Homo sapiens: one gene and its partner. The protein of the gene in region 2 interacts with the protein of the main gene of each other region in a pairwise test. Each region holds a gene or a part of one and is shown on either strand. Other genes may lie near its edges.

Region 1 (4,797 bases), on a different chromosome or scaffold from region 2:
TTTCTCTGAAAGTGTCCCCGTATTTGGGGAATTAAATGTTTTATCCACTGAAAAACTACACCATAAATGAATCTATAAACAGACAACTTCTAGGATTTGTTTTATTAAGGTAAGGATTCCTTCAAAATAAGGCATGCTATATCAGTTAGAACACTTACCTTCATTCCTTCTTCCCAACTAATCCACAGGTCCCCTCGTGTCAGGAAGCAAGCAACTGCATGCCTGGCTAGATGATGAATCCAACCCTCCTGACGAAGCTGTGTCATGATGGCATCAATCCATGGAAAGCCTGTCCGGCCTTCCGCCCATTTGGCTAAAGCCTCAGGATTTTTATCCCAAGGAATCTGAACACAGATAGGGTTTCCTTCCATTTTATCAAAGCGTGGATTATTTGTTGCTGCTGTATAGAAAAATTCACGCCATAACAGTTGCCCATAAAGGGAAAGGGGAGGGGAACTGTTCTTCTTTACCTATGGTTAAAAAGCAAAGAAGTATTATCAGAATTTTTTTTTAAAGTATTAAACAATAAGCTCTAATTTTAGAGAATACCTTTTTGTAGAGATCTGTTAGTTTGAAGTAAAACAGTCGACATGACAAACAACCAAATCGGAGATAAGGACTAAGTCCAGTAGGGCTTGCAAGCAGAGAATTCGCATTCATTCGAGGTCTTTCAAAATTTGCCACCCAAGCCTGAAAACACACAGAGAAAATTATATTAACTAATTGTCTTTTTCATTTTAAAAGAACACTCAGAATGGAGATTTTTTTTTTTAAAGTTACATAGTTCTTGGGGAATAAAATCTTATCCTAGCCACAAATTACATGTTTTAATAAAAAATAAGACAGGATAAAAAAGTGAGCATTCTTTTGTTTCAGTCGTCCTTGTGCAGCACATACTCATGTGAAATAAATTTCCTTCAAATTTCCAACAGAAAGCTGAGAGCACCTTCAATCTCTCTCTCTTTTTTTTTTTTCCTGAGACAGGGTCTCGCTCTGTCACCCAGGCTGGAGTGCAGTGGCTCAATCTCGGCTCACTGCAACCTCCAGCTCCCGGGTGGAGGATTCTCTTGCCTCAGCCTCCTGAGTAGCTGCGACTACAGGCATGCGCCACCACGCCCGGCTAATTTTTGTATTTTTAGTAGGGATGGGATTTCACCATGTTGGCCAGGCTGGTCTCAAACTCCTGACCCCAAATGATCTGCCCACCTCAGCCTCCCAAAGTGTTGGGATTACAGGTATGAGCCACCAGGCCTGGAAAATTTATTTATTTATTTTGAGATGGAGTCTCACTCCATCACCCAGGCTGGAGTACAGTGGTACGATCTTGGCTTACTGCGACTTCTGCCTCCTGGGTTCAAACAATTCTCATGCCTCAGCATCCCAAGTAGCTGGAATTAAAGGCACACACCACCACCCTGGCTAACTTTTGTATTTTTAGTAAAGATGGGGGTTTTGCCATGTTGGCCAGGCTGGTCTTGAACTCCTGACCTCAAGTGATCCACCTGCGTCAGCCTCCCAAAGTGCTGGGATTACAGGCGTAAGCCACCATGCCTGGCTTTCAACCTCTCTTTAACACAAAGGTAAAGGTGAAATATAATTCTATTCTAGTTTCGAAATTGTGGCCACTAGATACTAGCTTAGGTAGAAAGAACAGAAGAGGTAGTGCGGTAGTAGCTAAAGGGGAAATAATTAGAAGAGAAGGAGAAAGAGCATTTAAATGAGGAGATGGTAGTTAACTTTCAAACAATTAGGTTTGTGCTATTTTAACCATTTCTGTTAATCCTCCCCTTTCAACAATCTATTTGTTATTTTTAAAAGAGAGAAAAATTATTTTTTAAATGGCAGTTTGGAAATACAAGCATAGCTATATAATCTACATTATCATACTTTTCTTTCCAAATGCCTTTCCAAACGAGTAAGTGCTTCAGTTTCTCCACCTGGCCACACTGCAGAGGATAAGCCATCTGTATCAAAACCTACAAGAAAGAAAAGAAAAAAACATCATTCTTCCGAAACTAATTTTTATTTAACCCCAATAACTGGGAGAACAAATTACTTTGCAGAAAAATTAAGAGAGTACCATAAAAATGAACTGAAGGCCTAAATAAGCCCTCACCTATAGAGGATATGACATGGTTTCAATTTTTCAGGATGTACATCTTAAGGTGGTAACAATAGATCACATATTTATAAAACACATAAATGATGAACAAACATATCACTTCTTAAAGGGTTCTTTTTCTTCTCCCCCTGCCCTTTCTTTCTCTCCTAATGCAAAATACTTTACATGGCAAAATTAAAAGGGGAATTTTCTGAGTAATTTATGATTTATTAACTTGCAAGCCTCACACTGACTACAGTTTACACTCACCTAGCTCTTCCAGTGAAGGGACTCCATATTTCTCATCATGGTCATCAGACAGAGGAGTTGTGCACTTTTCTATCACTTCTGAAGTAATTGTCTCTACTGGTATCTCTAGTGGTTCCATTTTGCTGATGAGAGTCTGGAATCTTTTATAAGTTAGAGGCGGTTGTCCACCATTGAGTTCTATGATCCTATAACAAGAGTTAGTAAAATGTAGTTAGTATTAAAAAAGACAATACATTTTGGCTAATAAGCTCCCAAAAGGCTTAAAAAGCAGAAAATAAAATTAATCACTGAAGTCTTTGAGGGTGTTAGCTTGTTATAATGACCAAGAAATGTGTCCAAAATGATTAATGAGTCCAAAAATCATTCTCCTGAGCTTCTAGACATCCTCTGGGTATCAAATATACTACACAAATATACTACACAAATATTAAACCTTTAAGACAAAGAATATTAAAAACTTATGAGAGGAAAAAACAAGTAAGAGGGGAAATTAGTCTAAAGGCAATTACAAAAAGTTAATACACACAGACATATGAAAAACATGTTATGGCCCAGCTCAAAGAATCTCAATCATCAATAAAAACTAAACCAGGTTGATAATTATATGAAAGAGTAATCAGCAGGTCTCATTTAGGAAAAATAAATTTTATTGTATATATTTGAGTTTACAACACATTATGGGATACATGTAGATAGTAAAATGGTTACTATAGTGAAGCAGATTAACATATTTATAATCTCAGTTACTTTTTTGTATGTGTGTGACAAAAGCAGCTAAAATCTACTTATTTGATTAAAATTCCAAATAAAATACAATTTTATTAACTAAAATCCTTACTCTGTACACTAGACCTCTAGTGTTGTTCATCTTACATAACTTCTACTTTGTATCCTTGGACCTACATTCCTGATATGGTTTGGCTGTGCCCCCACCAAAATCTCATCTTGAGTTGTAACTCCCACAATTCCCACATCATGGGAGGGACCCTGTGGGAGGTAACTGAATCATGGGGGCAGGTCTTTCCCGTGCTGTTCTCATGATAGTGAGTAAGTCTCACAAGATCTGATGGTTTTTAAAAGGGGGAGTTACCCTGCACAAGATCCCTCCTTGCCTGCTGTCATCCATGTAAGACATGACTTGCTCCTCCTTGCCTTCCACCATGATTGTGAGGCCTTCTGAGCCGTGTGGAATTGTAAGTCCATTAAATCTTTCTTTTGTAAATTGCCCAGTCTCGGGTATGTCTTTATCAGCATCGTGAAAACAGACTAAAACAATTACCCTATTTCCTTCAGCAAATTTTATAAATTTTGATTCTATATTACTGTGGTGACAATTACTTCCTATTTTCTATTGTGCTAATGAAGGCATGAGAGATGTCAGCATATGTATCTATGTCACATACTTAGAACACATAAGCCCCCAAATTTCAAGTTATTTAAATTTAAGTATCTTTTTACTTCTGATCATTAATTAACTCAATCAATTATTAATTAAAAAAATAACTAGCTTTGCCAATGGTAGTTAAAGATTAAGTTTAGACACTCTTTTGGAATAACTACTCTTTTTCACTATGGCCATTTGCTTAGCATTTGGCCTTAATAAAAAATGACAGGTGAAATCCAACTCCATCATTTTATAGATGTGAAAACAGGCCTACCAGGAGAGTTAAGTAAACTAGTCAAGGTCATATAACTGATAAACGGCAAATCAAGGTTTTCTTAGTGTATTTTAGTGTATTTTTCATTATACAATACGTAGTGATGTATCAACTACAGATACATACAGAAAGTAATACAGAAAGCAATCACCATAAAAGATATCCTGTTTAAGTAAATTTTGTTTTGGTGTATTTTGAATTTATTCATAGGGTTGCAATGAATTTTGCTGAATGTAATGATGCTACAATAATACTACTGAGGACATTGTTAATTACACAACAGTAGCAAAATGAGAATCTTAGGACAAAACATTTTCTATATGTTACATTTTAATATGATAGATTACATATAGTAAATATTCACATTCAATCCAATAAACACTTGATTTTTTTTTTTTTTTTTGAGACAGAGTCTTGCTCTATTGCCCAGGCTGGAATGCAGTGGTGCTATCTTGGCTCACTGCAACGTCTGCCTCCCGGGTTCAAGTGATTCTCCTCCCTCAGCCTCCCAAGTAGCTGGATTACAGGCACCCGCCACTATGCCTGGCTAATTTTTGTATTTTTAGTAGAGATGAGGGTTTCACCATTTTGGCCAGGCTGGTCTTGAACTCCTGACCTCGTGATCCATCTGCCTCGGCCTCCCAAAGTGCTGGGATTACAGGTGTGAGCCATCGCGCCTAGCCTAAACAATTTTATGCATAACACTGAGTCTCCCACTTAGAAGCAACTGCTTTTATCCTGTGTTGCCCCCTCCTTGCTATGAGCTCC
Region 2 (3,500 bases):
AGTAAACATGTCCATATTTCATTATTCATCACCCAAACAAAACATGACAAGCCTCACACAAACCACTGTGATTTTTTATTTTTTTAAATAGAGACAGGGTCTCGCTCTGTCACCAAGGCTGTAGTACAGCTGCACAATCATAGCTCACCACAACCTCAAACTCCTGGGCTCATGCAATCTTCCCGCCTCAGCCTCCTGAGAAGCTGGGACTATGGGACTACAGGTACCCACATCCAGCTATGATTTCTTAAATTATTCTGGATATCGCAAAAAGCCACCCACTTCATTTATCTCATCACTGCATGATTTCCAATACCTTCCTTCCAGCAACAAAAAGAAATAAACAGTTCCCTTTGGCATTCTCCCATGTACCTTTTTCTATTTCTCTCTAAAATATATTCATCTAAATCTTCTACATAAAGTTTCTATGCTTCCTTTTCATCTGAAGATCCCATTTCAAAAAGCCATCAGTAAGTAACACTAAGTTCCTGTTAGATAGAAATAGCAATTAAGCTCTACTCAATTATAATCTCCCAATTTTTATTTTATTAGATATTTCTTCTTCCTCAAAATCGTTCACAATAATTCAATGTAATTCACAGCTTTATCAATGACTTATGCTTATTTAGTGGCTGCTTTTGCTGTTTTAAGAAATTATTAATAATTAATAGAGTAATTTAGCTCCATCAAATATAATATTTTGTGACAGCTTCTAAGGTATACAATAATTCTAAATTTTTAAGCATTTTCCCTGAAAAAGCAAATATTTTAAAGGCATGAGAAGATGTACTGGTTTAGGAAACAAAGCCACTAAAAATACTTTATTTTTTAAAAGAAGGATTTAAAATATTACCTTGAAGCTGACATATTGTAGATGGTTTGAATGTCTTTTAATAATCTGTTTGATCAGCTCTGGATGGGTAGCTTTCAAATAAGATGTAGCTGGCTGATTCAGTTCAAATTCAAAACATCTCCACAAGTCAGGCATGTGAAATACCTGGTTCCAGTTGCGGCAAACTTGTGAAGCATGAGCCCGGTCAAGAAGAGGCAAATATTTAAATACTTGGAGAATAATGTCCTGAAGGAGATTACCCCAATCACAAGTCTGAGAATGCTCATTTGTAGTCCTCAGTTTCTTGGATTTCTCTGCAGTTCCTTCTTCTGATGAATTACGGTCACTATCTCTTCCTCCTCGTTTCATCCTATTCCGAAAAATGCATCAGTTTTTTTCCTACTCAACTTTTGAATAGAAATAAACTCAAAATTCATTCTTCTGTCACTGAGATGTGTGTTTATATACACAAACATGCAGGAAAAACTGGATCAGTAATTCAAGAATACCAAAACAAACTATTATGAAAAATGCCAATGAAGGCCAACAATGGTTTTATAAATTTTACACTTTTTTGGCATGTTTTTAAACATCTACATTTATCAGTATAATATACAGTATATACTACATGGGAGAGAGTATTATGATTTTGAAACTATGCTAAGAATTTATATTTCAAAAGTTGTGGTCAACTTAACTAAAATGAATATAAAAGGGAACCTACAGCGATACTTTGTAAAGGTTTCTTAAAAGTCATCTAAGGATATTTGTTCTTGAATTCCAGGCCAACCAGGGTCCCAAGAACCTCCAGAGAGGATGTTCCACATTTAATAGTCTATACAGGGGTCCTGTGGTTCTGGCCTGAGGACCAGAACTGGGCCCCATAGCAGGAAGTGAGCAAGCTTTACAGTCTGAACTCCTCCTCCTGTCAGATCAGCAGCTACATTAGATTCTCATAGGAGTGAGAATCTTATTGTGAAATGTCCACATGAGGGATCTAGGTTGTGCGCTCCTTATGAGACTCTTAATGCCTGATGATCTGAGGTGGAACAGTTTCTTCCTGAAATCACCCCCTGCCACGGACAGGCACTGGGCTATGCTATGTGTTACTGCCAGACATTTCTTAACTCCGCCTAAAATAAGCAAAACCACCCCTACTATGAATTGTTTGGTCTGGAATGTAGCTGCTTCTTCAAACACATCACTTAATATTGCACTGTTTTCCCCAAGTTGTGTTTCTGAATTATACCTATTTGTTTATTCTATGTATTCTTAGCACTTTCATTCCATTAGTTTCTTTGAAAGATAGTTTTTTCATGGCAAAACAGTATTATGGCTAAAGAGAATGGGCTCTGGAACCAAGCTCCTTGGGTTTGAATTCTGGCTCTACCTCTCACTGGCTATGTGGCTTTGAGCAAATTACTTGATATTCCTGTGCTTAAATTTCCAAAATTAGTTTAATAAAACAGGGTTTCTGTGAGAAATGCAATACTATTAAGGCTTTTCAAAGGGGAGATACGACTGTTGAACTGTTGAGATATGACTGTTGTGTAGGAAAGCAGTCCAGCATTAACGACATTAAAGTACACAACATGCTAAAAACCAGGGTTACTACCCAGAAGGCAGAGAATGATTCATTCATTCATTCCGTTCACTCATTCATTCATTCCGTTCACTCATTCATTCAAGATGGGGTCTCGCTCTGTCACCCAGGCTGGAGTGCAGTGGCACGATCATGGCTCACTGCAGCCTCGACCTCCTGAGATCAAGCAATCCTTCCACCTCAGCCTCCAGAGTATCTGCATGCACCACCACACCCGACTCTATTTTTGCTTTAAAATGGAGAGAGAGAGAGTGTGTGTGTGTGTGTGTGTGTGTGTGTCAGAGAGACAGGGCAAGTGAGCTTGTGTACGAGAAAACACACCCTGGAAGTAGACTCACTGAATTATTATAGTAACCAACAGTAGACGGCAGATTACAGGTAATTTTTTTTTCTTGCAAACATCTCTTCCCTTTTTATGTTTTACACATTTTCTTTTACTATCAATGCATTACCGTGTAATCGGACTTTTTGGAAAAGTATAGCAGGCTCTAAACTAAATGGCTGCAGACCACTCACTGGTAGTTACTTAGTTCAGAGCCTGTAATACTTTTGTTTCTAGAGAACAGTTCTGGCAGGGTAGTGGTTTCGACCTAAACTTGGGGTCACAATCTTTCAGAAAGATGGCTTGTTGCTCCAACACTCCTCTGGCCTATCAGCATAAAAGAATTTCTCATTCCTGTGTGAGATGAAGGATATGCATATGCATTACTGTAAAACAAATGTTTCTGCAGACTTTCTCCACCCAGTACCTCGCAAAACTTGTGAAAGAGGATTGAGGGCTGGAGAGTAAAAAGAGAATGGCAGAGGCCTCTGACCTTAATGCCATGAAAGTCAGTCAAAGACGTCTTAGCATATGTGCAATAAACTGCCTATTCTTCACTGCTCCTATTCCCAACTATGTGAATAAAATATATTACGTATACCCTACTGATCAGGGAGAGAACAAGAGAGAAAATAGAATGACAGAGGTGACAGCAAGAAGGTAGTCTGATGGAAGACTGGAAATTATGTGTGACTTGAGATTAGTTTTTTTTTAATAAGTTTAGAGAAAAGTGTATAGTCTAC

The links. The genes of interacting proteins can lie anywhere in the genome.
Region 1: the proteins of FBXL3 (region 2) and CRY1 interact in a protein complementation assay, tested with the Homo sapiens proteins (one study listed by BioGRID).

Annotation. Positions count from the first base shown.
Region 1 is NC_000012.12:106,999,393-107,004,189, forward strand, and holds part of CRY1 (cryptochrome-1), read right to left. Parts: intron 2,557-4,797; coding exon 2,372-2,556; intron 1,977-2,371; coding exon 1,888-1,976; intron 691-1,887; coding exon 550-690; intron 471-549; coding exon 159-470; intron 1-158.
Region 2 is NC_000013.11:77,020,660-77,024,159, forward strand, and holds part of FBXL3 (F-box/LRR-repeat protein 3), read right to left. Parts: intron 1,203-3,500; 5' UTR 1,202-1,202; coding exon 854-1,201; intron 1-853. UniProt on the Homo sapiens protein: Substrate-recognition component of the SCF(FBXL3) E3 ubiquitin ligase complex involved in circadian rhythm function. Plays a key role in the maintenance of both the speed and the robustness of the circadian clock oscillation.